4 linked regions of the Homo sapiens genome follow. The protein of the gene in region 2 interacts with the protein of the main gene of each other region in a pairwise test. Each region holds a gene or a part of one and is shown on either strand. Other genes may lie near its edges. The genes, in order: PTGFRN, CD9, ODF4 and MME.

Region 1 (7,914 bases), on a different chromosome or scaffold from region 2:
GAAGGCTTCATGGAGAAAGTGAGTTTCAAGGGAAAAAGGAAATATTAATACGCAGGCAAGAGGTGAGAAGTAGAAGGGGCCAGAAGGTTTAATATAGTCTACATAAAGGAGAGCAAACAGGTTAGTTGGAACGAAGTGTCTGAGCCAGAGAAGACCAGAGGGGAGGGACACACAAGGGGCAACATCTCCTTGGAGGAAACTCATAAGGACACAGTGAGAACAGGTGGGAGCCCCAAAAATGATCATTTAGGAAAAGGATGAGCTTAAAAGGGAGGCTGGAGGAAATAATCAACCAGGAAGACACCAACTGTGTGGGAAACAATCAGGACCTGGGCTAAGACAGTAGCCGTAGAAACAGGAAGGAAAGAAAGAAGCTGGAGTCTGTGGTACGGGGAGAGCCAAGAATTGAGAGACTACGTGAATATGGAGGTCAAAAAGAGCAGCGATACCACGATTATACCCAGGTTACACCCCAGGAGGAAAGATGATCTTGTTTATCAACATATTACATTTCAGGGATCAGTACAGTGCCAGAGCAGTGTAACACAGCGAGACCTTCCCAGAGGTCAGGCTGAAGCCACACCGAGTGAGATTCTGTGACAGCAGAGTTATCAGGAGGGTCATCAATGGTTCAGAGAACTGTTAGGTGAAAAGGTACTGGCTGGTGACACCACAGAAATTCCCTGTGTAATTCATAGGAGGCATCCAGCCAGGACAGGATATGCTGGAGTACAATCAAGATTTCCCCAAGCTGTGCTTTCCCCACTTCTATTTTGTTTTTGTCAGTCTCTCTTTGCCCCCTCCCCTCTTCTCCCTTCATTATTACTCAAGGGCATTGTTTTCAAAGTTCTACCTCATCCCACCCTCATAACTGGTACCCAGGTTGTTCAGAGAACTGCACAGCTCTAGGGGGAGTTATTCACACAGACTACAAAGTGAACAGCAGCTCCCGAAGTTGTACAGTGCACCATCTGTGCAAACCTAGGCCATGGCCCTGCTTGACCCAGACACATAAAGTCAATTAATGTGTGTGGACTATAACAGCAGTGCGCCACTAACATACAACTTACAAGGGTCCCAGAGTGAAAAGTAAAGATTAAAAGCACTACCACCGGGTGTGGTGGAGCATGCCTGTAATTCCAGCACTTCAGGAGACTGAGGTGGGAGAATGACTTGAGCCCAGGAGTTTGAGGCTTCAGTGAGCTGTGGTTGTGCCATTGCACTCCAGACTGGGTGAAAGACTGAGGCTTTGTTTCAAAAATAAAAATAAAGCACTAGGATCAGGGACTATAGAAAAGATGCCATAAAACTAAGTGGAAGATCTGGAAGCTTTCTGCACATGGGCTGAAGCTGAAGCAATGTGGCTGGACGAGCTCTCTGAGGGAGTCAGTTCAGAAAATCCCTTCAAGGTGAAGGAAGAAAACACAGCAGCCAGCAAGGCTGGTTCATCAGCAGCAGGAGTCATGGGGGTTACAGCAGTGTGGGCCCCGGTGTCCCCAGCAGGGGAGTAGCTATAGAAGGCCTCCTCTGGAACCCTCTGACCATAAGTGCAGAGTAATCATTTGCCCTGTGTGCAGCTGGGACCTGAATGGCACGGACACCGCACATCATGCGCTCTGTGAAAGACTCAGAGCCGCCTTCTCTAGGGGCTTGGAAGAGAACCCCAGGCCAGGTCACAGGAATCATCTTGTCCTGGTTGACACTGACAACAAGGATCCAAGAATATCAAAACATTTAAGAGTCGGCCCTGGGGTACCATGGTGGGCACTTAATAAACATATTTCCGTGGCTGGCTAGGATCACCATGTGGATCTACGTGAAGATGGTGTCTGTGTATGGAGTGAATGGAAAATGGAGAGGGAAAAAACCCACAAAAGATTCCTTGGGTGGGGGGAGGGCGCTGGGCCAAAACCTCACGGGGCACCCAGGGTTTCCGGAGGGTGGAAGACGAGGGGATAGTAAGGGAGGGAAAGTAACAGGTAGAAAAAGTTGGAGAAGCCAGGCTTTTAGGTCTTTGTGTATAAATACGCAGCTAGGCAGCTTCAAGAAAAGCTAAAAGAAAAGACTGAGGCAGAAGATCTAGCCACGACGAAAATGACGGCAGGACTCGCCCGCCGATTTCCATTGTAACGCTCCGGGCCACCCTGTGACCTTCGTGGAAGGAAGTTGGAGGATTCTCTCGCTTCCCTGGAAAGGCAACTCCGCGCGGGTTGGGTGAAGAGCGACCCGGCCGGCGGCGGCTATGGCGGGGCATATCAAAGGCTCACATTTCCGCTCTCGAGCCGAGGACCCGGGCCGGGACCGCAGCACCTTCCGGGCCGGGAGTTCAAGGTGAGCCGGGCTCCCGGCGGCCAACAGGTAGGGAGACCTGGGGGAAAGACGGCCCCGGGCCACTCCCCCCGGCACATGTTGGGGGCGAGGCTCGGCCTGGCGGAGCGGCCACTTGCACCCCGCGCGCGGGGCCCGAGCGGATTCGCGCCAGGCTCCGGGCGGCCCCGCGGCCGCTCCCCGCCGGGCCGAACAACCCGCGCACCCCGGCCGGGTTTCCCGGGAGCAGCCCGGGCACCCTCGGCGCCCCAGGCCGCGCGCTGCAGCCGCGCCCCGCCGAGCCCTCCAGGGCCTCGCCAGTCCCCGTGTGCCCCGCTGAGCCCCGCGCACACTCACCCAACGACAGGAGCGCCAGCAGCAGCGGCCTCGAGGCCAGGCGCCCCATGCTCGCCCGGCGGGAGCGACTCTCCCCCTCCTCCTCCTTCCCCGCCGCCTCTCCTCCTCCTCCTCTTCCAGCTCCGGCTGCTCCAGAGTCGGCGCTCCTCCGCCTGGGCCGCGCGCCTGCTCCGCTCTCCTCGCGAGCCGATAAATCCCAGCGCTGGGGCGTACGTGCGCCCCTGGCTCCGCTCGCTCCCTCCCGCCTCCTTCCCTCCCTCCTCCAGCCGGCCGGGCCCGGGAGCCGGCCCCGCCGATCCGAGTGTGCAGCCCCGACCGCTTCCCGAAAGCAGAAGGGAAGAACCGCAGCGCCCGCCCGCGCCTCCCATCCGGCGCTTTGCCAGCAACAAACACAAACTTTCCCAAGCCCCTCCCCGCTCCAGGTAACGGAGGAAGAGCCGGGGCCACCCGCTTAAAGGCGAGGAGGCGTCGGAGCCCACCCTGCCATCCCCTCTGGGCCCCCACCCCACGAGAAACTTTCCTCCGACCTTTAAAAGTTGGCCTGGGAAAGACTCGTCTGGAAATCCCATCGCTTTAGCCCTATCCCGGGACACCCCGCGTTCCATCACGCTGGAGTCACCCACGCGTGTCTAGTCTATCCTCAGCCAACTCCCCGCTCGTTCGGCCTCTCGTCCTGAGCTAAACACCCCACCAACCAGCCGCTTGGCCTATGCCAAAAATTATGCAGATAGGAGCGAAGGAGCTGAAAGGACTTTTAAAGGCCACGGATTCCAACCTCTACCATACAGAGGCCTTAAGTGTTTCGGTGAGGTGCCCAAGGATTCACAGGGAAGGGGCAAAATCAGAACCCCGCTCTCCTGACTCTGCCCACTCCCCGGTGGCTAGGGTGGGCCTGTCTCCTTCCTTACCCAGCTCCCTCCCTCTCCTCGGCGCCTGTGGCACTGATTAGAACAGCACCCCACAAAGACACCCATTTAAAAAACAAACAAAACCCAAGTGTATTAATAGCTATAGTACTTCATATAGAATGTACTCTTAAGACTTAATATTTATTGCTCTAAGTGGACACCACTGATTGCCAATAAAGACTCATTTTTCCCCCTACAATAGAGTTTTGTGCTTTTGATTTGAATACAAAAGGCCCGACTTGGTTGGGAGAAATGGAGCATTCCTTGCTTGAAACTTAGCAAGCATGATTCAAACACGCAAGGAGCAGCACTGGTGCCCACTGCCCGTCACTGGGCTTTCATTCACATGCAAAACGGATCGCAGATGCTTATGCGGAAACTGCCCACACTGGGGAAGAACACTGCTTTTACTCTCATGCATCCGTCTTTCAACCAACAAATGTTTCTTATTTCCCCACTATCAAATGTGTGATTAGCCAGGTATCTTTGGAAAGAGACTTAAAAATTCATTCCTGGTGGTGCAACGTTATTGTACTTAATGCCACTGAATGGTACACTTAGAAATGTTTAAAATTGCCAGGCCTGGTAACTGGTACTTGTAATGCTAGCTACTCAGAAGGCTGAGGTTGGGGGGGCAGGGGGAGGCGGGGGGCAGGGATGGTGTTGCTTGAGGCCAGGAGTTTTTATTTGTTTTGTCTTCTTTCTTTCTTTCATTTTTGAGACAGGGTCTCAAAATGAGGATCTGTCACCCAGGCCGGAGTGCAGTGGTGCGATCAGGGATCACTGCTGCCTTGACCTCCCAGGCTCAAGCAATCCTCCCACCTCCACCTCTCAAGTAGCTGGAACCACAGATGTGTGCCACCACACTCTCGCTAATTGTTTTTATTTTTTGTAGACACTGGAGTCTCCCTATGTTGGCCAGGCGGGTCTCGAGCTCCTGGGCTCAAGCGATTCTCCCGCCTCGGCCTCCCCAAAGACTGGGATTACAGGTCTGAGCCACTGGGCTGGCACTTTTTCTTCTTTTTCTTTTTTCTTTCTTTTTTTTTTTTATTTGAGGCTAGAAGTTTGAGACCACTCGGGCAACATTGTGAGACACCGTCTCTAAAAAAAAATTTTTAAGGTTAAAATGGTAAATTTTGTGCTATGTACATTTTACACAATAATTTTTTTAAAATTTATTTCTGCCGCCAAGCCTTTCCTGGTTCTGTTCATACACACTGTAATTCCTTTCTCTTCCCCATCCCAATTCTTCCCTAGAATCTCGCAGGGAAGTTTCCCAATTTCATTCAATCAACCTTGAATTCAAGCCTAATGTTAGGCCTTGGAAGGTAGTGGAGCTTCAGAGAAATGTGAGGCCTGGCACCTTCAGAAGCTCAGATTTCAGCTCATCCTCCATCTTTCCTTTTCTTAACCACCCAGAACGCTTAATGTTTGAACCACACATTGTGGCACTTGGTCACATTCAGTTTAGCAAAATGTATACACTACCCCCATCTCTGTCTAATAATGCATGGGCCTAAGAGGCTGTCACATTTTCACCTTGTATCCCACCTTATGGCAGAGTAGATGTTTTAAAAATTCTTTTGTTTAATAAACAATGTGTGTCAGGGACTGTGCCTAGCACATGGTAGGTCCCAATGTATATTTATAGAGTGAATTAATGGCAGACACTGGGCTAGATCCTGGGGGTACAGGGATGAAGCAGACAGTTCTTGCCCTTGAGGAGTCGACATTTTGTGCATTGTGATTGCATATGCAAGGTAGAGTTGTGACACCACAAGGGAGCGGCCAGTCCAGGAGGAGGCTGTCAGAGAAAGCTTCACAGAGGGGATGACTATGCAACGAGTCTTGAAAAATTGGTAGGTCTTTAGCTGTGGAGTGTAAGGATAAGCTTACAATAGATGTTGTGTATTTAATATGATAGAGATTCTTCTCACCTCACCCACCCCCAGGTATTATTAAATTAATGGTGTATCTTACAATCATGGAAATAACAGTGGTTAACCATTGAAATGATGAGAATAAATAAAATTGTCTAGGTAAGGCAGGTAGAATGAGGACTGAAGTGGGTAGCCTGCTGGTGGCTGGCAGTTAAATGTCATGGGAGTTAACCAAAGAGCCACTTTTGTAGCAAAAAATAAGCATAAATTAATAAGTCTAGACTGTTGGTTATAACCACCACACCCTTTGCACCTTCCTGACTACCAATGGATAAAGGAAGAAACACAGCAGACTGGCACAATTTGTTAATTCATGACTCTGGAATCTGATGATGCTTTTACTATGAAAGATATTTATTTACCAGAGTGAGTAACCTTCTATACAGGTAAGGCTTTTGCCCCAACCAGTTGTTCTCCTATCTTAGTCTATAGGCTTGCCTGGGGCAGGAAGACTCACTCTCCAGCAATTCTAATTGATTCACGCCCACCCCCAAGGAGAGTACCGACATGGGTTTCTTTTCTCCAATCATAGTGCCCCCAAGGGGCACTGGTCACAGCAGTCCGACATTATGGTCTTTTGGTCACACATGTCTTTCTGCAGGTGATACCCCTAAAACCTCACAAGAGTCCTCATACTGTTACGCCAAACAAGTTTTCCCTGCTGAGATCAGGCAAAAACATCATCATGTTATTTAACTTTGTGAATGAAAATGTTAAAAGGTTCCCAGTGAATGAAATTGCTGATTGTTCTAAGACTCACCTAGACTTGGAGTTGTTGGCCCTGCCACCTCTGGCAGCCTGTACACGCACACAGTCTCCAAATGACCCTGACCCCTACCTACTTCAGCAGGGGCTCAGGGGAAGGAGTATATTCCATGGCACCGTTTCATTCCACTAATCATTTTCACTCACAGTCTTCCTTGTTCTGTGTCCAGATGTATATTTTCCCAGTTAAAGTTAAACAGAGATTACTAAACAAAAAGAAATTTAGGATTATATTATAGAATTAGAAAATGAAATTAAAAGTTAGAAAGGGAGGGGTGGGAAGAGGAGGCCTTTATTTCCCCACGAGTGAGAGTCCTGCAATACTGGTGAGATTAGTGGGGAAGCTGTAGAATGCTCATGTGACAAGTTTGAAAACAGCAAGGGACCTCATCTGTTTGGTATGGGCTAAGCAGGGTCCTGCCTGAGGGCTGGTCCTGCTCGTCACCACCCAACTATCAATTCTCCCCATCTTTTCTTCAGCCCTAAAAGACTGAAGTGGGACATGGTGGAGAAAGTGTTCTTAAATGACTTAGAACTGTTCCAGATTCCACCTCCACCAGGCCAAAAGTGCCTCCCTGGGAAGCTACCCCACATAGCATCACGCCTGCAGGAACACTGGGGTGGAGAAGTGTGAGGAGAAAATAAGGAATTGGATGGAGGTGAGCCTTTGGCAATAAAAGCTCTCCCCAAGACTGAGGCTATTTCCTATGTTACGAGCAGACAGGGCCCTTGCCCTGGAGGGGCTTATCATCTAATTTAATGCATGAAAAACCTGGAATACAGTGAAGGACGGGGAGGAGATGGAAACCACAAGAGCAAAGGAATTGAAAGAAAGGTAAATGGATAAGAGAGACACAAGCCATTATGTGTTGTATTCTGCAAATATGCCATCATCTGGGCTGAAAGTATCTCTTAAATGAATGGAGACAGCAGTCCCTTGTGCAAAAGAGGGGCTAACACATTAGAAATAGTTGCAGGCACTATGGATGTTGGAGTAAGTTCTTTACCTAAGGTCATGGCTGCCAAGTAGGATGGTGCCCAAGGGTGCCCCATCGAGCCAACATTGTGCCCTGTCTCTGACCTGCTATGCCCAGGAGAGGCCTTTATCCCCTCACAGGAAGGGAGTTTATCCCAGTCTTCACACATAAATTGGGAGGGGGAGGGAGGGAGACGAGGATGAAGATGTCCTCTTCCTTTCACCATTTCCCCACTTGCCTTTCTCACCCCACGTGAGCTGCACTTCTGTGTTCAACTAGAATATTATCTTAAGTTCTAAGCATTATATTTTAAAAACAACATTTACAAACTAAAATGCATCCAGAGTAGGGAGGGTTGCTAGCCAAAATACAGAATGCCCAGTAAAATTGGAATTTCAGATAAATAAGCAATATATTTTTAGTATAAGTATGTCCCAAATATTACACAGAGCATACTTAACACTAAAAATGTATTCATTGTTTATCTGAAACTCAAATTCAACTGGGCATTCTATATTTTTATCTGTGAAATCAGGCAACCCTCATCAGGAGAAGAGTTACCTTATATGGAAAGAGGTTCTTCTGGAAGACTTGGAGAAGACAACAGGGAGCTCTGAGGAGTTGTCTTCAGTTGTTTTTGAAGTGTTGCACTTTAAGGGA
Region 2 (7,021 bases):
GTCACATGTCGAGAGCACCAGATCTGTGACTCTGGGGAAGCCACTTAACCTCTCTGTGCAACAGTTTTCTATCTGTAAAACAGGAGTAGCAATAATGCCCACTTCCAGGATTGCTGTGAGGATTAAGTGATATAATCCACATGTGCACAACAAATGCTAGCTGTTGTTAATCTCAATTATACCAAGCATGAGTAACAATCATTAATAATCACCATGGTGAATTTTAACCTGCTGCTGTATCCCTACTGTCCTTTCACTGGGACCAGAGAGATATCCTTGATGTAGGGGCTGAAAACACGCACGCGAGAGAGAAAGTCTGTGATGTTTCCCCACAATACACAGCAGGACACTCGATGAGAACCCTCGGCAGGTGACACGCTGACTTCACTGTCCCACATCTGCACCCCGAGCAGGGGTGAGACTTTGCAGGCAACAAACCATGCAGTCTGCCCGCAGCTGAGGCTCACGGGCAGCACAGAGCAGAATGCACACAGAGAGCGTTTGTTCCTCCCCCTTCTCCCCCACATCCGTCGTGAGGTCAAGTCACGTGGGGTTACTGGCAAACCCCATGTTGCAAGAATATGGGTATTGTTCTTGTGCATGCCTGGCCCACACTGGGCAAGGGGACAAATGTAGCTTGTCCTCAAGTCAGGTCGCATCTTCCTGGGCAGTCAAACGCTGTTGAGGCCACAAGCTGGGCTTGGGGAGGCTGTGCAGCCCCATGCATGGAGCACTGGGTAAGAGGGCAGCCTCCTTTGGTTCTCTCACATGGGGACAGTAGAAAGGCCCCAGTTTCTCCCCATCTAATGGGGGCAAGTCAAGGAAGGATGAGGTCACTCCTTTGAGCTCCATAGCAGGGGCTGAATAAACAGGAGGTATTAAGAGATCAAAAGGATTTACAAACACATGAAATACCGTGGAGTGGGAACGAACAGGCAGACATGTTTTCTCTAAGTCCAGATCCCAGTTCTTGAACCTGGCGGTCCTGGCAGAGGCCAAGGGAATTGGATTAGCTGCAAGTGAGCTACTAAAGAGAAAGTATTTCCCACGCAGAGAAAGAGAACATGCTCCTAATGGGGCTTGTGGTTAATATTAAATATTCATGCTAGGGCTCAGCAGAGGAAGATTTTAGGATCACGGGTTTTGTGGGCTTTAAATCTTGCGTGGATGGCTACGGATCTGCAGTGCCTAGCTTTAGCCCTCTCTAGTCACGGGAAAAGGGAAGCGATCCCCTGGCAGCTGTGTTCGGGGACTCAGCAGCAGCCGGCAAGCTACAGGACAGCTCATCTGGAAGCAGGCCCCATGGAAGTCACGGAACCACTGCAGGGCTCGGGCTGGTTTTTACAAGGGCTATTCAGTGCTTCCCTTTGGAGAAGCTACTCATCGCTTACACCCCAAGCTTGTTAGCCAAGGCTGCTGTTGATAAATGACAAAGTGTTCCCCTTTATAAAACAAGCGAATGTTAGCTTGCTGTCTGACTCATGGAAAAAGTTATCCATCACAGAGCCTTCTCTAGGATTACGGTATTAATTTGCTTAAGGGTTGTTTATTCTGCTTTTTTCAGGCTGACATTACAGGCCCAGAAAAAAAAAAAAAAAAGAAAGGCTGGTGTAGCAGCAGTAGCATATGCCAGCGTGTCCTTTACACAAGAAATGGAACAGTGTTTTTCACTGTTCACCAGGGCTCTCAGTTTAGCCCAGGGAGAGGACACAGCAGGCTCCCGTCCCTACACCAGCTCTGTCCTGCAAACAGCACTCACCACGCCCGTTTGTGTGAAGGAGAACAAAATCCGGTAGGGCCTCTGGCCTGCAATAAAAGTTTATTATATCCAAATAACTCCACCAGGTGTTCAAAGGAGCCCTACCTCTGCCCCGACTGGTTTCGTCTTGGTTCCCGCCCTCCCGAGTTCACGGGAATAAGTGCCACAATGGAATTCCATTTGCCACACGCTGTACTTCTTTGCCCCAGAGGGGAGTGGGTGTGTAAGCTGTGCTGTGGTTGTGTAAGCTGTGCTGGTTTCAGGAGGGAGAAAAATGAAGCCCAGAGCAATAAAATGAACTGCCCCAGGTCACAAGCCAGGATGGGGATGCCAGCTTACTAAGGCCAAGTGTCGCGTGTCCTGAAAATCACCAGGCACCTCATCATGGATAGGGGGCTGGCCGAGGAAGGGGGGGCATTCACGGCCTCTGGCTGGAGCCCCCCTAGATGCCCTCATTCAGCAGCCATGGTTCTGGAGGGACACCAGGGAGCTGGGAAAGGCTGCTGGCCTAGGACCAAGAAAATGAAGTTCCCCAACAAGTTTGCAGCCTGGGATTAGGGATCTTGCTGACGGGCTGAATCTCCAGGCCTGGATTGGAGAGAAGGCCCATATAAGGCTGTCAGCTGCTCTGGACTTACCATAGACTGTTCTGAATGTTGGAAAGGTTTTCACTTGCTTTTCTGCCTGGTTATATACTCTTTCTCTACTTGGTAAGCTGTGGCCCCACTGGAGAAAAGACACCCCTGGGCTGTTCAGGTTTCCTGAAAAGTCAGCTGCATGGTCAGGCTGGCCTGTGGGTTGCTCTGCAGACAGTTGGTGGCCCAGTGCAAGGGGCGGTCACCCCATGACTATTCCTTGGAAAAGTAGCCAGGGTGTGGCTGGCACTCCAAGCTCATCTGCTAGGAGAAGGGCTCTGGGCCAGTACAGAAGGCTGGTCTCACAGCCTCGTGGGGAAGGGGACACAGAGCGACGCCTCCTTGGCCCTTTGCCCATGGACGACAATTATTATTTCCTAAAGCGTTCAGTGACGTTCAGGGCATAGCTCAGACCTAAGCAGTGCTCAGAGTGCTGTGCTGCTGTTTTTTTTTTTTTTTTTTTTTTTGAGATGGAGTCCCGCTCTGTCTCCCAGGCTGGAGACAGAGCCTCAGTGGTGTGATCTCAGCTCTCTGCAACCTCTGCCTCCCAGGTTCAAGAGATTCTTGTGCCTCAGCCTCCCGAGTAGCTGGGATTATAGGTGCACGCCACTACGCCCAGCTAATTTTTGTATTTTTAGTAGAAGTGGGGTTTTGCCATGTTGGCCAGGCTGGTGTCGAACTCCTGACCTCGGGTGATCTGCCTGCCTCGGCCTCCCAAAGTGCTAGAGGCTGAGGCGGACGGATCACCTGAGATCAGGGCTGATCACTGTGCCCAGACACAGTGCTGCTGTTCTAACTTTACCGTGCATCATCCCCCTTGCCGGCGCTTCTGCAGGCAGAACGAAGTCTTCAAAGCTCCGCTCTCTTCCCCGAATGGGGTGTCGCTGCAAAGGATCTGTATTTCCCTGGCAGAGCTAAGTGGACAGTGGCCCTTAGACCCCAACTAGGGGATCTGTGTCTCTTTGGGGTTGTGCCTTCAAATCACCCTCCTGGTCACTTCAGGTAGGACCACCGGCCACCAGCAGGGCCCTGCAATGACCTGCAGGATCTGAATCCTGTGAGGTTCCCAGAGGTGAGCCCCAGCTCCTCTAATGGCACTCACCATTCTCCTGCCACCCTGCAGCTTTCCCACCTGTCAGCTGCTGGCTGGGCCACCGACGCAGGGGTTTCTCTCCCTGACTGCAATTTGGGTGAAGTAAAAGGGCCAAGACAGCGCCACCCCATCCCTGCCAATGGGGCACATTCAGCCAGTACAGACCTCTTCCATTCCTACAGAGGGAGACCCCACAACCTGGCAATGACAACCCGAGAAGCAGCTCTTTTAGGCCTGGGTTCAAAACCTGGCCCTGCCTCTTGAGGGAATATAAGCTTAGACAAGTTATTTCAGCTCTCTAGGCCTCGGTTTCTGCACTTGTGAGATGAGAATCACTCCACACTCCTCGTAGAGCTAAGGGGATTAAATTATATAATACACACAAGACAATGAATGACACACAAAGAAGGGGGCTCAAAAATGTTAGTGTCTTCCAGCCGGGCGAGGTGGCTCACGCCTGTCATCCCATCACTTCGGGAAGCCAAGACGGGAGGATCACCTGAGGTCGGGAGTTGGAGACGAGCCTGACCAACATGGAGAAACCCCGTCTGTACTAAAAATACAAAATCAGCTGGGCATGGTGGCACATGCCTGTAATCCCAGCTACTCAGGAGGCTGAGGCAGGAGAATCGCTTGAACCTGGGAGGCAGAGGTTGCGGTGAGCCGAGATTGTGTCATTGCACTCCAGCCTGGGCAACAAGATTGAAACTTCGTCTCAAAAAAAAAATAAAAAAAATAAAAAATAAAAATGTTAGTGTCTTCCTCCCAGTTCCATCCTCTTACCCATGAGATTCTTAACTCCCACATCTAAAAATATAAAGAATCAGCCATAGAGGCTTTGGGTAACAGAAAAGAAAAAGTGGGTTGTTAGAAGCAGCCAGGACAAGGGAGGACTGAGTCTCTCTTTGGAGACACACGCGCCGGCCACAGGGCTTTTGCTTAGGAAAGCAGGCCTGACTGTGCCTGCTCCTGCCGGCAGACCTGCTCCCCCAGCACAGGGCTCCCTTCTGGAACACGGCGTGGAGTGTGGAGAGTCTTCCCCAGCACCCGCACCCGGCTCCTCCCTCCTGCTCTGCAGGACAGCATTCTAAGCCTGTCACAGACTCCCAAAAAATGGTCTGTTGCCAAAACAAGTCAGGGCGCTATAGAAACCTGTTCCCCAAAAACTCTGTGTGTATGTGTAGTTTTTTTTCTAAACATACATTGTGCTTTCTCTCACTTTCTTTCCGATAATAGAGAGACACACCCCAAAAAACCCCAGCTAACAATAAAAAGCAGTAAACCCAGCAAAACTATCCACAGGGCTCAAATGTTACGCAACCAAAGGAGCTGTTTTTAAAGACTCTCCCTACCCAGTTCAAGAGGTGGGAAAGGGAAGGTCTACGTGGCTGGCCAGCCTTGCTTCTCCCTGAGGGACTGGGAGATAACTGTTTTCTCCCTCGTTTGTAAAAATAACTTTTTTGGTGGGTGGGAAGGAAGTGACCAAACTTACATTTTGAGCCTGACAACATGTCAGCGTCATCCTAAAAATAGGAGGTTTCCTTTGTTCCTCACAAATGAAAAGTTTCCTACCTCCAAGCCAGGCAGAGTACAGCCGCAGAGTCTGAATTCACGCAGACGCGGGCAACTGCACTTGGCAGGCACCAGGCTCCCCCTCCTCTGAAGGGAGCTTTGACGTGGTGATACGGCAACGAGAGGGATAGAATGGTCTAGCAAGGCTGCCAAGAAGCCTGAGTGTAGAAAGAAACCTGCCAAGTCTGTTCATGTTCAGAGGATCCCAGGCAGGTTTAAACTGGAAGCCTCTCTCCCAAAGCAAAAGTCGTGTCAAATACAAACAAATAAAACTAAACACTACAGCATTTACCCCAGTACCAGGGGTCCAAAGGACTGGGCAGAGTCCATTCTAGTCTCTCCTATTGTTGCTGTGTTTTCCAGGAGGCTGATGTTTTTCCCAGTCTCAGAGTCCCTATCTGAACAGTGAAGAGGAAAGCTGTCTATATCTTCTTCCAGCACTGCAGATCCCCAGGACAAAGCTTTTTGAATTAAGGAAATGATGCAGGATAAGAAGACAATCAGGAGAGAGCATCAGAGATGAGAACAGAGGTTCGTAAACCCTCAAGAATGAGTACAACTTTGGCAGAGGCTACATCACATCAGAGAACCATCAACATGCCTGACTTGGCCATCAGGAAAAGAAACCACATCAGTTAAACGCAAATTCCCAGGCACAACGACACACACAAAAACTGCACAACTTGAAAGGGACACGACTGGCCAGCGTGGCTAGAGCAAAAGTCTTTCCCAAGCCCAAGTCCCTGGGTCAACATGGGGCCTCCAAAGTTGCAGGAACTTTGTTGGAGCCAGGGTCTGAATTCACTGAGCCTTCCCCGTCCCTCACCTGTGTAGAAGCTGGAATTATTATTATTAGTTTCTTGCTCGAAGATGCTCTTGGTCTGAGAGTCGAATCGGAGCCATAGTCCAATGGCAAGGACAGCAATCCCGGCAAGCTGCAAGACATACAGGACATCAGCATTAATTCTGGCTGCCAGCAACAACACAGTCCCCACGCGCTTAAGGGTGAGACTTGCAAAGGACTTTGTGACCACCCTTGGTCTCTGCCCCTCATATACGCCTGGTAGTTGTAGATGCCATTACGGGGTGTGTTTGATTCATGCAGGTACTAAAAATACCAGCAAGCGAGGAATAAACAGTGACCTACCTGCCGCCCATTGGCTGAAGGGGTATTTTATAGGCAACAGAACACTATACAGCAGTGAAAACGAGTAACTCTAGCTACACGCAACACCATGAGTGCATCTCACAATGCTAAACCAAGAAGCCAGAGCCACAGGCACACACACAATATGATTCCATGTAGTTAAAAACGCTATGCTGTTTAGGGATGCACACAGAGCTAGACGCTTACATGTGCCTATAAATGATAAAGGAAAAGCATTGTTATCAGGTGAGTGGTGATGTTTAGGTGGAGGAGGAAATTATGCTCAGGGAGGTGCCATGTGGCTGGGGGTGTCGTATTCTAACTGTTGACTTGGGTGATGGTTACACAGTTCCGGACACACATGCACCAGGGAGGGCAGCTGCAATGTCCCTGGAGACCTGCTGCTCAGTAAATGACATGCCAGGGCCTCCCCTCGCTGGCACTGCTGAACTAGATGCTGTGCAGGAGGCCTCCTGCCAAGTCCCCCCAGTGCCAGCTGAGCTCCCTCGTCGTCACCCGTACCAGGGCTTGCCGGGGGAGTGACTCACAGGCCTCCAGTGTGGTAGCCGGCTGGACGCAGGAGTGGGTGGGCCCAGGTTTTGCTGGTCCACCCTCCTCAACAGAGGCACTCTTATGTCAGAGCCCGCTCATCAGGGACCTTGGTTCTCGGCTCCAGGAGCTATTGATAGCCCATGGTGTGGACAGGCCTCTCTTTCCTTCCTCCTTTCCTCCTCTCCTTTCCCTTACGATATGGCAGTGAGTGTGGGCATGTTGGGTGGACAGCAGATGTGGCAATAGTGGGAAGGGCCACCCAG
Region 3 (6,923 bases), on a different chromosome or scaffold from region 2:
GGTGGGAGGATCACTTGGGCCCAGCAGTTTGAGGCTGCAGTGCAATAAACTACAATCACACCACTGCAGTCCATCCTGGGTGACGGAGTGAGACACTGTCTCAAAATAAAAATAAAAATAGATGCTTGTCTCTGAATAGAGTGTCTCTGGAAAGAAACAGGAGAAACTAGGGAGGGAGACTGGATACTAAGAGATAACAGACTCACTTCAGTATACAATCTTTTGTATTCTTTGAATTTTCACTGTTTATACACACCTAATCCTAATTAAATAAATTTTAAAAATCAGTGATGTTTGGCCGGATGCGGTGGCTCACGCCTGTAATCCGTGAGCCGAGGCACTTTGGGAGGCCGAGGCAGGCGGATCATCTGAGGTCAGGAGTTCAAAACCAGCCTGGCCAACATGGTGAAACTCCGTCTCTACTAAAAATACAAAAATTAGCTGGGCATGGTGGTGGGCGCCTGTAATCCCATCTACTTGGGAGGCTGAGGCAGGATAATCGCTTGAAACCGGGAGGCAGAGGTTGCAGTGACCTGAGACCGCAACTGCATTCCAGCCTGGGCAACAAAGCAAGACTCTGTCTCAAATAAATAAATAAATAAAAATAAAAAGCCTGGCTGTCTTTGAGTAACTCCGTAGAGCAAGGCGCCTATGTGAGTTTTAGAGCCAGGCACACCTGAGTTGCAATTCCAACCCTGCCATTATTAGGTTGATCCATGTGAAATTCTCCTTTTGTAGGTGAAAAGCAGTCAAATATTAGCATGTCATTTGGTTCAATCTAAATAGCTTTATGACCCTGAGCAAGGTACTTAATCTCTCTGAGTCCCAATTTTCTCATCTCTAAAATAGGGATAATTATCCCTATCCCTTAGGATTGACTAAGGACTAAATTGAACAAATGGAGTAAGTGTACAATAAAGGATAGCTTTTGTTTCCCCAAATTTATTATAATAAGGACATAATATTTTCATAATGCTTTCATAATTCATTATATGAATATTTTCATATTCATATGATAAGGACATAATACTTTCAGAAAATAATAGCTGTGTGATTTTTTTCATGCTAAGGAGAGTGAAAAAATGGAAATAAGGGTCAAAAGCTCTGGTTTTCCCCAGGAGCAGGGAAAGAACTCCAAATTCCTGAGGGGTGAGGGAACAGCATAACCAGAGACTAACAACAATAAGAACCAGGTGTGGTGGCCACGGCCTGTAGTCTGAGCTTCTCCGGAAGTTAAAGCAGGAGGATCCCTTGAGCCTGGAAGTTCGAGGCTGCAGTGAGCTATGATTGCACCACTGTACTCCAGCCTGGGTGACAGAGTGAGACCTTGTCTCTAAAAAAATCAGCGAAACAAACAGAAAAAAACAAGGATGAGGAATGAAGCAGCTGCAAGAATTCAGGGAAAGAAGGAACACAGAAGCCAGATGTGGAAAAAGGAAAATGATCCAGAAAAGCAAGGCCTGAGGCAGAAGGAAAGGAGAATGTGTGGGATCAGGGCCTGAGAGGGGACATTGCAAGGAGTCCTCTCAAAGCTCTGGGTACACAAGACTAAGGAAACCCCCATCTCACTGGGGCTCTTGTCCCTGGTAAATTAGGCGATTAATGAATGATTCTCTTGTGCTGAGTCCATGCCCCTCGTAACTTTTTTTTTTTTTTGAGACAGAGTTTTACTCTTGTTGCCCAGGCTGGAGTGCAATGGTGCGGTCTCGGCTCACCGCAACCTCCACCTCCCGGGTTCAAGCAATTCTCCTGCCTCAGTCTCCAGAGTAGCTGGGATTACGGGCATGTGCCACCACGCCTGGCTAATTTTTTGTATTTTTAGTAGAGACGGGGTTTCACTATGTTAGCCAGGATGGTCTCGATCTCCCAACCTTAGGTGATCTGCCTGCTTTGGCCTCCCAAAGTGCTGGGATTACAGGTGTGAGACGCAGTGCCCAGCCTGATTTTTTTTTTTTTTTTTTTGAGACAGGAGTCTCACTAAATTGCCCAGGCTGGACTCAAATTCTTGGGCCCAAGCAATCCTCCCACCTCAGCCTCCTGGATAGCTGAGACTACAGGTGTGCAGCACCATGCCCAACTCTCTCACAGCATTCTTAGAAGCACAGATTTGGCTCTGGGTTTTATCAAAAGCAGTGACATTTTCCATTGCACCAATCAAATCTATTTAGCCAGGCTACAGGATGAGAAACGATCATCGGAGGTCTCAGTGCCAGTGGAACCATCTTGCAGGCCAAAAAGTAAAGATGACCAGAAAGAGGGAACAAGAATACATCCAGGGTGCAGATACAGAGGCCAAGACAGGCTGGCGGCCTGGGCTGGGATGGGGGGTGGAGGGGCTCACCTTTCCCATTCTCTAAGTCAGAACAGCTCCTGGATTTGTAAAAGTGCAGGAGCCCCATGGACATAACGTGGGCTGATGTGTGGATTCTGTTGCTGACATCCACGGGCCAGCGCTGGTAGAAGAGGCTCCTAGAGAGGTCCAGCCATTTCTTGGAGAAGGCCACGACCAATAGTAGGATAAAGGCAACCAGGCTGAGCTCAGAGGCCAACACCTGGGCCATCCAGCGGAAGCTGTGTGTGATTCTCCATTGAAAGGGCAGCGGAGAGTTCTGGCGCTGGCCCAAGGACCTGTTACTACTGAGGGAGAGGGTGGAGGACAGCAGTCTCCCATCTTGTCCCAGCTCACCTGTGCCCCATCCTGCCTCCCCACTCTTCCTTTCCTTTCCAGGTCTCTGATGTTGGTCTCTTTCTCCTTCTGACCTGGGGAACTCATTCCCAGAGTACTCTGCATCCATCTTGAGCACCACTTCACCCTCTGTCTCCCCTTTCCCTCACCAGACTCAATTGTCTCTTCTCATCTTTTGGATATTTTCATCAGCTGCCACCATGCAGCCTGAGGTCTGAGAAAGAATGAGGAAGTCTAATAACAGACCTCGATCAAATAAGAGACTCTTGATCCAAGAGAAGGCCCCAACCCATTCAGCAGGCCAGGTCCCCTAACTGCCACGGAATTTTCCTGGGGCACAGTGAGATGGGGGAGGGAAGCCAAGTCTTCAGCAATTTTTTTTTTTTTTTTTTTTTTTTTTAGAGAGAGAGACAGGGTCTCCCTCTATTGCCCAGGCTGGGATGCAGTGGCACAACCTTGGCTCACTGCAACCTTGAACTCCTGGGTTCAAGTGATCCTCCCACCTCAGCCTCCTGAGTAGCTGGGATTACAGGATTGTGCCAGCATGCCTGGCTAATTTTTCAATTGTTTGTAGAGATGGGGTCTTGATATGTTACCCAGCCTGGTCTCAAACTCCTGGCCTCTGCCAGGCACGGTGGCTCACGCCTGTAATCACTGCACTTTGGGAGGCCGAGGTGGGTGGATCACCTGAGGTCGGGAGTTCGAGACCATCTTGACCAACATGGAGAAACCCCATCTCTACTAAAAATACAAAATTAGCTGGGCGTGGTAGCACATGCCTGTAGTCCCAGCTACTCAGGAGGCTGAGGCAGGAGAATTGCTTGAACCTGGGAGGCGGAGGTTGCGGTGAGCCGAGATCGCACCATTGCACTCCAGCCTGGGCAACAAGAGTGAAACTCAGCCTCAAAAAAAAAAAAAAAAAACTCCTGGCCTCATGAGATCCTCCCCACTTGGCCTCCCAAAGCACTGGGATTACAGGTGTGAGCCACCTTGCCTGGCCTGTGGCTCCAGCTCTAACTCTTTCCGGAAATCCTGTTTCTCAGGCCACAGCTCAGAACTGTGGATCTGACACCTCCCTCCAGCTTCTGCCTCCCTTTACATATGAGCAATGGTATGTGAGAGGCCCTCCTGTGGTCTGCATATGGTTAATTTGTCTTCACCAAACCTCATGCTGAAATTTGCTCCCCAGTGTGGTGGTGATGGGAGGTGAGAGGGCCTAGTGGGTGGTGTTTGGGTCATGGGGGCAGATGCCTTGTGATTGGATTAACGCCTTCCCTGAGACCTCACTCCATTAGCTCCCCGCAATAGCTGGTTGTTAAAAAGAACCTGGCGCTGTTACCAAGCAAAAGTGCTCGCTGCCAGATGTGCATAGAAGCCAATACTCCAATACTAGGGCACTAGGTTTTGAGAAAAGGAAAGCTTTATTGTGAGCTGACCCACGAGGATACGGGAATCCAGCTCAAATCTGTCTCTCTTTGCTGGTCTTAAGGCAGTACTTTTATTAGAAAAGGTTTAGGGGGAGGATTCTGGGATTAGCGGGTGATTGGTGGAAAGAAAGGAGAAGTCTAGAAAGTCCTTAATCATGTCTGGTTATCTCCAAGGTTCTTCGTGGGTTGCATGTGCAAATTTGGTGGCGTTAGTATGAAACAGCAGGTGGAAATTCAGGCTGTGACATCAGCAAGCTCGTTCTGTGCGGATTGCTGTCAGCCATACGGGTTCCCACTGATTTCAGCCAGTCCTGTTATAAGCAAAGGGATTTTTCAGCATTTCAGCAAGCTGTTTCTTAGCTGCCATCCTGTAAACTCGAAAATGTCTGTTAATCACTGGTTTATTTAACTGTTTGGGGCACAGTTTCAGCTCCTCCCTTACCTTGTGATCTCTGCACAAGCCAGCTCCCCCTTGCCTCCACCATAAGTGAAAGCAGCCTGACGTCCTCAACAGATGCCCAATCTTGAGCTTTCTGGCCATCAGAATTGTGAGCCAAATAGCCCTTTTTTCTTTATAAATTATTCACCCTCAGGTATTCTGTTATAGCAACACAAAATGGACTAGGACAGTCCCCTTTTCTCTTCCTAGTTCCTCTGCCCTAACCCCAACCCCAAATGCTCACTGATGGAGCAGGGGGAGGGAGCAGGAGCTTATCCCCAGGAAAAGATCCTCCCTCCATTGTTCTTTGGACATGTCTTGCAAAGATGTCATCGAGCTTCCCATTGCTTTCCCCAACCCTTCACCTCCCTCCCAGCTCTACTCACTGCTAGTCAATCACCACCAGTTCCTTCCCTCTTCTTTTGACTTTTCTTTTTCCTTTCTTTTTTTTCTCAGCACCAGAAAGAGGAGGATGTAGGATGAGAATGGGTCCTAGAGGTGTCATGCCTTCTGAGATTGTTATAATTTTATTTATTTATGTATTTATTTATTGAGACAGTCTTCCTTCATCACTCAGGCCAGAAGGAGTCTCTGTCTAAAAAAAAAGAACATAGGCTTTGGGGTCCAACAGGCAAAGGTATGAAAAATGGGTCTTCCCCGCCTTTTTTTTTTTTTTTTTTTGAGATGGGATTTCACTCTTGTTGCCCAGGCTAGAGTGCAATGGCGCCATCTTGGTCAGCTAACTGCAACTTCCGCCTCCTGGGTTCAAGCAATTCTCCTGCCTCAGCCTCCCAAGTAGCTGGGATTACAGGAATGAGCCACCACGCCCAGCTAATGTTTTGTATTTTGTAGAGACAGGATTTCACCATGTCAGTCAGGCCGGTCTCAAACTCCTGACCTCAGGTGATCCACCTGTCTCAGCCTCCCAAAGTCTTGGGATTACAGGTGTGTGCCACCACATGCAGCCGGGTCTTCCTCTTAATAGCCCTGTGAACCTGGATGTCATATAGCTTCCTTATGCCTCAGTTTACTCATCTGTAACACAGGAACAATATTTTTCTCATAGACTTGGTAAGAGTGCTGAATGAGATAATGATCAAAAAGCACTCACTAGTTCATAGTAAATTCCCAGCAACTGGTAATTATGTTGTTAAATTATCATTTTAATTGTTTTTACAGTCTTTCACTAGCAAACAGGGAAAGAGCAAAAATGCAGAAGATAATTCCTGGCAAGCATCCTTGCCAGTCAGTGGCATCTGCAAATCATGGAACAGATTAACTCTCCAAATTAACTCTCCTTGTAAGCAAAAGGAGAGTGAACTATGAATCCTGATGTCACCTGTGCAGTGGGACCTCAGGAATGGTTGAAAGTTGAAATTCAAAGCCTGTGAGGGCGCTTCTTCTGGCTGTGGTCTCTGCCCCTCCCTGGGCGTCTTCCTCTGTCTCTGCAGACCAGCCTCTTCCTCTGCTCTGGTCCACATGGTGGGAAACATGGCCCTCACACTCCAAGCTGTGTATCAGACCCCTCCAGCTGCTGGAGGGGAGACCTCTCAGTCCCAAGTCCAAGCATTCTCTGGCCCTGCCAGGGACGAGTGTCATCCTTAGAACAAGCAGCTACAGTTGGGGCACTGGGTCAGAAGACAGAATCTTTTTTTTTTTTTTTTTTGAGACAGGGTCTCACTCTGTCGTCCAGGCTGGAGTGCAGTGGTGCAAGCTCCGCCTCCCGGGTTCATGCCATTCTCCTGCCTCAGCCTCCCGAGTAGCTGGGACTACAGGTGCCCACCACCACGCCTGGCTAATTTTTTGTATTTTTAGTAGAGATGGGGTTTCACCGTGTTAGCTAGGATGGTCTCGATCTCCTGACCTCGTGATCTGCCCGCCTCGGCCTCCCAAAGTGCTGGGATTACAGGCATGAGCCACCACACCCAGCCAGAAGACAGAATCTTGAAGATGGGAGAAGGAGGGGAGAACACTGGGAGAGGGGGTGGTGGGCCTGCTGGGAATGTCATTTACACAGAGCCAGTGTCGTCAGGATTGGGCTTCCTCCCTCGAATCCTCTTTAGTTTTTAAGTTTTTCCTGGAGTTTCTTTTTTTTTTTTTTTTTTTTTGAGACGGAGTCTCACTCTGTCCCCCAGGCTGGAGTGCAGTGGTGTGATCTCAGCTCACTGCAACCTGTGCCCCCACCGGTTCAAGCAATTGTCCTGCCTCAGCCTCCCAAGTAGCTGGGATTACAGGTGCCCGCCACCACGCCCAGCTAATTTTTTGTATTTTTAGTAGAGACGGGCTTTCACCACGTTGGCCAGGTGGGTCTCAAACTCCTGACCTCGTGATTCACCCGCCTCGGCCTCCCAAAGTGCTGGGATTACAGGCA
Region 4 (7,883 bases), on a different chromosome or scaffold from region 2:
TTAAAAACTTTAAACCAAAAAGTGGACACTGCCACAGAATAGAATAAAGAATTAGGAAACTGGGGCACAGAGAAGTCAGGCAACGTGTTCAAGACTACACAACTCGTCAATATTCTTTGTAAAGAACACATTTGGTCACTGTTCAAAATAAAGCTGTATCATCATGCAGTAAAAGCGTACTGTAGAAATTTAGGGGGAAAATTAAGGGGATATAAGCCTAAATATTAAATTTCATCAGGGGCCTAGTGACACTTTATCAGCCAGTCTCCAAGGATTAGAACACACAATTTCCATTTTTCTGCATGACTGTATAAAAGAACATCTTAAACTAGCAGATTAGCTGTTTATAGCTCAATACAAATTGCTCTTAGAATTTGGTCCCAGGATGAAGTGGCGGCTCAGAAATGCTCTTATAGTTAAAGATCTTTGTTGAACACACACAATTCTCTAAGGGTGTGTTTTGTGGAAACTGAGGCATAGGAGAAAGAAGAAACATATTCTACATTTGAAGTATGGTCTGGGAGACCCAGCAGAAAACTAGAAATTAACCTTCCCAGTGAATTATTAATAAGCGAACCACAGCTAGACCTTAAAGTTCTGGATACAAAGTCTTAAACATGCTGTCCCCTTGATTACATGAGGCTATAAGCAAGGACAGACTATCAAATAAAAATATTTTATTACACAATGAAAACCGTGTCTGCTAAATAAAAGTGGAATGTAATGTACCTGAATGTTAAAATGTCTTACTTAATGGTTATGTAAGGCATGCTGGCTTAGTCTCACCACCCCTGGGGTTATGATATGGAATTGCATTGATTGTAGTCCTATTTTAATAGTGTATTGGTTGGGCAAAGGAAAGAGGGGAACAAATTTAATAATACTCTGGACACTTTACAGAGAGGTAAACAATAATAATTCTCCCAGTCTCCCCATGTTTCATGACTGTCCTAAAGAACACCTGAATGTTAAGCACATTTGCTAAAGTATTTCCCTTTCCTGAATATTGTTCCCCCCGCATATGTCAGAAGACAATGTAGAGAAATGTTTTACTGGTATAAAAGGACTTTTTTTTTTCTTAGTTCTTCCTTAGAAATGACAGTCAGTGTCCCTGTAAAGTAAAGCGAAGGGGTGAACCAGGGCAGCCTCAGGGTTAAATTACAGGTGCTCTGTGGAAACTCCATGCCTTGTGGTGTAGTAAAGCTAGTGGATAAGCATTTCTTTCTCCCTGTAAGTTACTTTCCCTTGGCTTCTCCTCCTTACCCTTGAGACTGGGTACTGAAGCAGCTGGGCTCTTAATGGGTCAGCACCCAAGTTTGCAGAAACAGTTACAGAGAAATGAAGACAGTGACAGAAGCTGCATCAAAACAATATAATCTTTGAATCACCTGCAAAGTCTTCCTCCATCTCCCCCTCTTGTAAATGCCCTGTAAATTCTTAAAGGAAGTCTTTTGCTCTTAGTAGCCTTTTTTCAAAAGCATTGAGCAAAAGCAGAAATGATGCAAGTTTAATCTCCTAATTAACTTTGTCGTTCATTTCCAGTTAATTCTGGAAGGTTCACAATTTTTCTTTAAGACATCAGGGGACAGTATCTGGAATCTCACTGTGGAACATATGACTAAACCCCAAATACCTGAATATCCAACTTAACCACACCCAATCCCATAGAGAAGAGTAAGGGGGACAAGTAAACAAAAGAATACAAAAAAAAAAAAAATACCAAGTTGAGGCTTATAGTCCCATATAAAGCAGGGTACGCAAAAACATACCTGTATTCTTAAAATATTTCACTTCAACTGAAGATGTGTTAAATAAAAAGTTTAAACGGAAAAGTGGACACTGCCACAGACGAGAATAGAGAATTAGGAGGTCTAAGATAACAAGAACCTGCAAACTTCAGCTCGACAATATTACCAACAGAATAAATTACTATTTTAAGTGTAAGCTTAATTTCAAAGCAATGTAAAGCAGCAATTCTTATACCAGTTGAGCATAAGCATTACTATATCAGACAGTCAAAGCAGGAAACCTGGATAACTGATTTGTTAAAAAGGAAATCTCATTGACTTACAGACTTAGACTTAGCTAAGCAGTTTTCATCTTCACTGCACATTATAACATTAACTTATATCTGCAGGTTCCTGAAGCTGTGCTATGCAATTACAGTTTGTTCTATGGAAACTGAGGCACAGGAAGAAGGAGAAACAGTTTCCATATTTAAACTGTGTCTGCAGAAGCTGAGGACAGAGGTACTCAGGATAAATCATCTTCTTGTTTCCCAGACATTAATTAGGTGTTTCCCAGCCTGAAATACGGAGTTCTGGACACGAAGTGCCAACCATATTACTCCCCTGGTTAGTGCTGCTCTACAACCAAAGACACAGGGTTAAGTCCAAGAAATTACCAGACAATTTTTTAAAGTGCTAGAACCCACAAAAATGGCAGGGGATGAAGCTACACGCCTTCATACAGTCGATTTGCCGACAAGCACTTTCCAAATGCTGACGCTGCAAGTCAGGTACTAGTTTTCAGTTTAATAAAATTGCCATTTGAATCATATATGGGGGAGGAATCGACTTGATCGAGAAGCTAAAGAGGGATATTTGGTTGCAATTACCCTTATTTTGAAACCAGACAAATAGACTGAAACCAGTTAAGAGGTCTTAAACTTTCATCTACAAAAGGACACACCAGCCCCGCACCGACCAACCCTTGTGAGATTTAAGCATTAATTATATAATAGGAAATCAGGTTAAAAGCAAGATGAAGAGGTGGGATAATGAAAAGATCTTCCGGTTAAGAAAAGTAAAAATAGAAAAGTGAGTTACAAATGAGAAAATCCGACAGAAACCAAAATGAAAACAAACCTTGCTTTTTAAAAAGAAGAAAAAAAAATCAGTGTCTGTACAGCAGAATGGCAAATTCCCAGCCCCCAAATCAGCCCCGGTGCAATCTGGTAGCGCGGATCTCGGTAACAAAACATAACTCCCCAAGGCAGAGGCCGCAGGGAACTATGGAAATGAACCTGAAGAGCCAACCTGACGTGACTTCCAGAGCCCTCCTCCAGGTCACCCTCTGGGCCCCTCTCCCTCCCCTCACTCTTCAGGTCCCAGTAGCGGCTCCTTCCCAGGGCACGCCTCCTCCACGGCCGCAGGGTCCTGGGCGCTCGGATCGCGCTGGACCTTAGCTGCGGACCCTGCTCAGCGCACCTCCCGGCAGCCGCTCCCCTCGGCTGGCTCTGCCCTCCCCGTGCCCGTCCCACGGGCTCCCAGCGCCCTGGGCGCTCGCGCCCTTTGGACCTTTCTCCCTCAGCTCGCTCTCCTGGGACTCACCAGTGGGATTCGGGAGAAGTTGGAGGCTGCTGAGCCGACACATCCCGACCAATGAGCGCACGGGGCCGGGTGGCAGTGGCGGGCTGAGAGCCCAGCCAAGCGCCTCTCAGTCCGTGCATCCGCCCAAGGCGCGCGGGCTCCAGGCTGAGGCCGGACTTGGGGGAGGTTCCGGACCCGCCTCCGCCCGGGCCGTGGGGCGACGAGGCACCTGGGCATCCCTCCGACCCGCACCCACAGAGACTCACCGTGACCCCTCAGCAGATCCCGCGCCAGGAGTTGGGCGGCTGCTCCAGCCTGCTCTCGGTCAAGCTTCGCCACTTGCACATCTCCGCGCCCCGCGCGTCTCGGCGCTCTCACGGCCCACCCCCCCCACCCCCTACCCCGCCTCGCCGCTGCAGGACCAGAGAGAGGAGCAGTTCCCTGGGTGACCTGAAGGTTTCCGCTAGGTCTCCCAAATCCAGTCACTTCATGTGAGGGGGCCGGGGAGACGGGGGGCGGGCGGTGGCAATGAAAATGTCCCATCCTCCCCACCCCCCATCTCACCATTCCCAAAAGGGCTTTGCTAAACATTTTTAGAATTGCTTAGCTTCGGGGCTTTCAAGAAAACAATACACGGGCTCTTCGGGATTCTCTAGTCCTGAGGGGGCTCCATCTCTCCCCTGTGGACCGGAGACTATAATGCTTGCCTCTTCTCACGCTCTTCTTTCGCTCTCTTTCCCGCTCCCTTTCCTCCCTGAATCCAAGCTTCCTTCCTTCTTCATTTAAATGTCCTCTCTCCCTCCCTCCTTCGTTTTCTTTTTTCTTACTCTCCCTCCCCGTTTCCTTCTTTCCTTCCTTGCTCCTGCTTTCTCCACCCCGCTTCCCTCTTTCTTCCCTTTCTTTTCCTTGGTCGAAGTACTCTCATGTCAAGATCTGAACTGAAACTCTCCGCTCCCACCTCCTGACTTCAGGGAATCTTAAAACGTGTGTACATCGGAGGTTGAGGGTGGGGAGTGAGAAAGAGAAAAATAAACTAAAGTGTGTCTGCTCTACCTACTGAAATCAGCCGTAATGCGCCTGGACCCTCACAGTTTAATGCAAGCAAGCAGCGTACCCCTTTCACTCAAGACACAGCGATTCCTCCTCAAAGGGGTAAATACAAACAAGGAAATAAATACTTTAGGCACAAAGGCAGTTTCTTTGTAAAAGCTACCTTTAGCAGCTATAATTGCCAAGGAGCTCAGAGGAACTAAACTTCCTTTTTTTTTTGCTTCCAGTGTACAAGTACCTTTAATACTGATCCCTTTCCTCTTTTGAATCACAGGTAATTACACACACACACACACACACACACACACACACATACACACACATATTCACACTCCACTGCGGAATTCATACTGAAATAAAACTGGGTTTGCAATTATCTGTTTTTAATATCAAAATGATTTGCTGCTTGAGAAGAGTCCCCTTGTGCTAAAAAATTTTCCATCTTTTTCATAGCAGAGAAAGCTGAAAAGCAAGGAGAAAAGGTAGTTCATCCTAATAAGTGGAATACAATGGAGAGACATTTCCCCAAAAAGCTAACCAATCTTTAAATAATTCGATTAATATAGAGGAAAAATGGAGTGTGTAGACCTAACAAGTGCTATTGACGTCTATTTACGCTTTCTCTGTGCATCTTACAGACACTATTTAGTCCTCACAACAATCCCGAAATATTGGTGTTTTCACTCCCACAAATAAGCATGCGGGGCTTGACTAGCGCCCTGGAAAGCATCTCAACTGGAATTTTTTTTTCCTACAGAGTCTCGTGCTGTCGCCCAGGCTGGAGTGCAGTGGTGTGATCTCTGCCTCCTGGGTTCAAGCGATTCTCCTGCCTCAGCCTCCTGAGCAACTGGAAATACAGGCACGCACCACCACACCGAGCTAATTTTGCTTGCGTGTGTGTGTGTGTGTGTGTGTGTGTGTGTGTGTACTTTTACTTTCGGGGTTTCTCCATATTGGCCAGGCTGGTCTCAAACTCCTGGCCTCAAGTGATCTACACACCTCGGTCTCCCAAAGTGCTGGAATTACAGGTGTTAGCAATCATGCCTGGCGGTGAGGACTCTTTTAAAGGAAAAAAAAGGATTTACTTAAAATGTATGACAAAAGAAAAAAAAAATGCCTACTTAGAGTTAATTTTAGACTCTGACTTTCAGCTGATAGTCGACAGTATGGATTGGTAACTGGTTTCCCAGAACAAATATTTTTTTCTTTTTCTCTTTTCTTTCTGTTTTTTGTTGTTGTTGCTGTTGTTCGTTTTTTTTTGTTTAGATGAGGGTCTGACTGTGTTGCCCAGGCTGGTCTCTAACTCTGGGCTCAAGCAATCCTTCAGCCTCAGCCTCTTAAGTAGCTTGGACTACCCACATCTCCCTTACAATATCTTGATTTCATTAAAGTTGATTAGAAACTTAGGGTTTTTGTTGTTGTTGTTTGTTTGTTTGTTTTTAAATCAAGAATGCTAAATCTCCTCCCAGAAGTTTGTGCAAGTTTGAGATAATTTTTTTAAGGGATCTTAAAGAGTCCCCAACTATTTACAGTAAGTAAATTTAGACAACTGAGGCTTACTGAGGTGGTCCAAGATCACTCAGTTTGGCCACTTATAGGAATGGAGGAGAAAGTAGCCCTCCTGGTGGCCATACATAAGTTATTAAGAATGGAATGCATTGGTTCTAGCAGTTTGCAGAATGGATCCTTAAAAACCACTGTGTGTGACACAAATGCTTGATGAATTTTTTTAAGTCCTTTAAAAATGCTATAGTGCATTTTTATATGCACCATTGAGCCAGCAGGCAAGTAAAAGAAAATCTTAGAAGCCAAAAACAAAGAGAGCTGTCAGAGGCATTTGGACCAGAGCAACTCCATCTTGAATAGGGGCCGGGTAAAATAAGGCTGAGACCTGCTGGGCTGAATTCCCAGGAGGTGAGACCTTCTTAGTCATACGATGATGTAGGAGGTCGGTTGGCACAAGGTATAGGTCAGAAAGACTGTGCTGATGAAACAGGATACTGTAAAGAAGCCAGCCAAAACCTACCAAAACCAAGATGGCCATGAAAGTGACCGCTGGTGGTCCTCACTGCTCATTATATGTAAATTTTAATGTATTAGCATGCTAAAAGACACTACCACCAGTGCTATGACAGTTTACAAATGCTATAGCAACATCCAGAAGTTAACCTATATAGTTTAAAAAGGGGAGGGACCCTCAGTTCCAGGAAATCTCTGCCCCTTTCCCTGAAAACTCATGAATAATCTACCCCTTGTTTGGCATATAATGAAGAAATAACTGTAAGTTTACTCAGTCAAGCCGCCTATGCTGCTGCTGTGCCTATAGAGTAGCCATTCTTTATTCCTTTACTTTCCTAATAAACTTGATTTCACTTTATGGATTCATTCTGAATTCTTTCTTGCAAGAGGTCCAAGAACCCTCTTTTGGGGTCTGGATCAAGATGTCTTTCTTGTAATACCGACAAAAAAATCAAGAAGGATATGTGAGTGCTGAAAACAGTAGCTGTCCTGGTGGTATCTATCCATTTCAAGAGGCCTCACTGGACTTAAGCGACCTAGAGCTTTCACTTTAACAGGACTTGCAAGTGCCAAGGGACTTCATACAAAGTGTAGTCCAGGGCAAAGTGAAAATGTGGGCTAACAAAAAATGAAACTCAGCCCCAACTCCGACTCCTCACCCCTACTCTTCCACAAGAAACATAGATATACTTGCTTTTTTCAGTCCTGACTCAGGCTGGTAAACTTACAACAAAAACTTTCTGTAAGAATTCATGATTTGGCCAGACTTCAAATGGATGTAGGAATAGAATTTATACTAATTGTGTAGCCTGAGTATTTCCAAGTTAAAGATCTATGGTAAAGTAGTCCAAGCTAGACTGTTCAAAATAAAAATTGAAAAACTTCCCACCACTGACTGTAACCAAAGGAACTTCTTGAGAATGAATTTAGGAAGCAAAATAATAGTTTATGGAAGATCTGATATGTGAGAAAGAATGATAAGCAAAGAATATAGTAACAACATAAATAAATCTAAGCAAACATTAACAAAAATAAAAGAATGGTGATAAAAAAGATCAACTAAAAAACCAGACAACGGGGTGTGTAAGCTGGGAGAGTTTAATTAGAATTAAAGCACTCTGAAGTCTTTACTCAATCAGGCCTGGTGGTGTGCACCTGTAGTCCCAGCTACTCAGGAGGCTGAGGCAGGAAAATCACTTGAGCCCAAGTTTGAGACCAGCCTGAGCAACATAGTGAGACCCTGGCTAAATAAATAAAATGAAGTCCTTACTTATGTTGTTGGAAAGAAGGATAATGATATTGATTAATTATATACTTTAGACTTTATTAGGTTAATTATGTATGTAAAAAGTACTAATACAACCACAAAAAAGATAAAAATAGAGTGCATAAGGTCAAGTTTTGCAGAAAGAAAAAACAAAATTAAACATAAGTCAATCTAAAGGAGGACAGAAAAATAAAAAGTATTAGAGAAGAACATATAGGAAGTATAACATAAAATGC

What was found.
Region 1: the proteins of CD9 (region 2) and PTGFRN interact in binary tests that used the Homo sapiens proteins (3 or more experiments, as listed by UniProt).
Region 3: the proteins of CD9 (region 2) and ODF4 interact in binary tests that used the Homo sapiens proteins (3 or more experiments, as listed by UniProt).
Region 4: the proteins of CD9 (region 2) and MME interact in binary tests that used the Homo sapiens proteins (3 or more experiments, as listed by UniProt).

Annotation. Positions count from the first base shown.
Region 1 is NC_000001.11:116,905,003-116,912,916, reverse strand, and holds the start of PTGFRN (prostaglandin F2 receptor negative regulator precursor), read right to left. Parts: upstream 3,002-7,914; 5' UTR 2,714-3,001; coding exon 2,665-2,713; intron 1-2,664. UniProt on the Homo sapiens protein: Inhibits the binding of prostaglandin F2-alpha (PGF2-alpha) to its specific FP receptor, by decreasing the receptor number rather than the affinity constant. Functional coupling with the prostaglandin F2-alpha receptor seems to occur.
Region 2 is NC_000012.12:6,224,399-6,231,419, reverse strand, and holds part of CD9 (CD9 antigen), read right to left. Parts: intron 5,995-7,021; coding exon 5,886-5,994; intron 5,282-5,885; exon of another isoform or gene 5,060-5,281; intron 1-5,059. UniProt on the Homo sapiens protein: Integral membrane protein associated with integrins, which regulates different processes, such as sperm-egg fusion, platelet activation and aggregation, and cell adhesion.
Region 3 is NC_000017.11:8,335,924-8,342,846, reverse strand, and holds the start of ODF4 (outer dense fiber protein 4), read right to left. Parts: upstream 3,008-6,923; 5' UTR 2,796-3,007; coding exon 2,342-2,795; intron 1-2,341. UniProt on the Homo sapiens protein: Component of the outer dense fibers (ODF) of spermatozoa which could be involved in sperm tail structure, sperm movement and general organization of cellular cytoskeleton.
Region 4 is NC_000003.12:155,075,451-155,083,333, reverse strand, and holds the start of MME (neprilysin), read right to left. Parts: upstream 3,016-7,883; 5' UTR 2,868-3,015; exon of another isoform or gene 1-2,867. UniProt on the Homo sapiens protein: Thermolysin-like specificity, but is almost confined on acting on polypeptides of up to 30 amino acids. Biologically important in the destruction of opioid peptides such as Met- and Leu-enkephalins by cleavage of a Gly-Phe bond.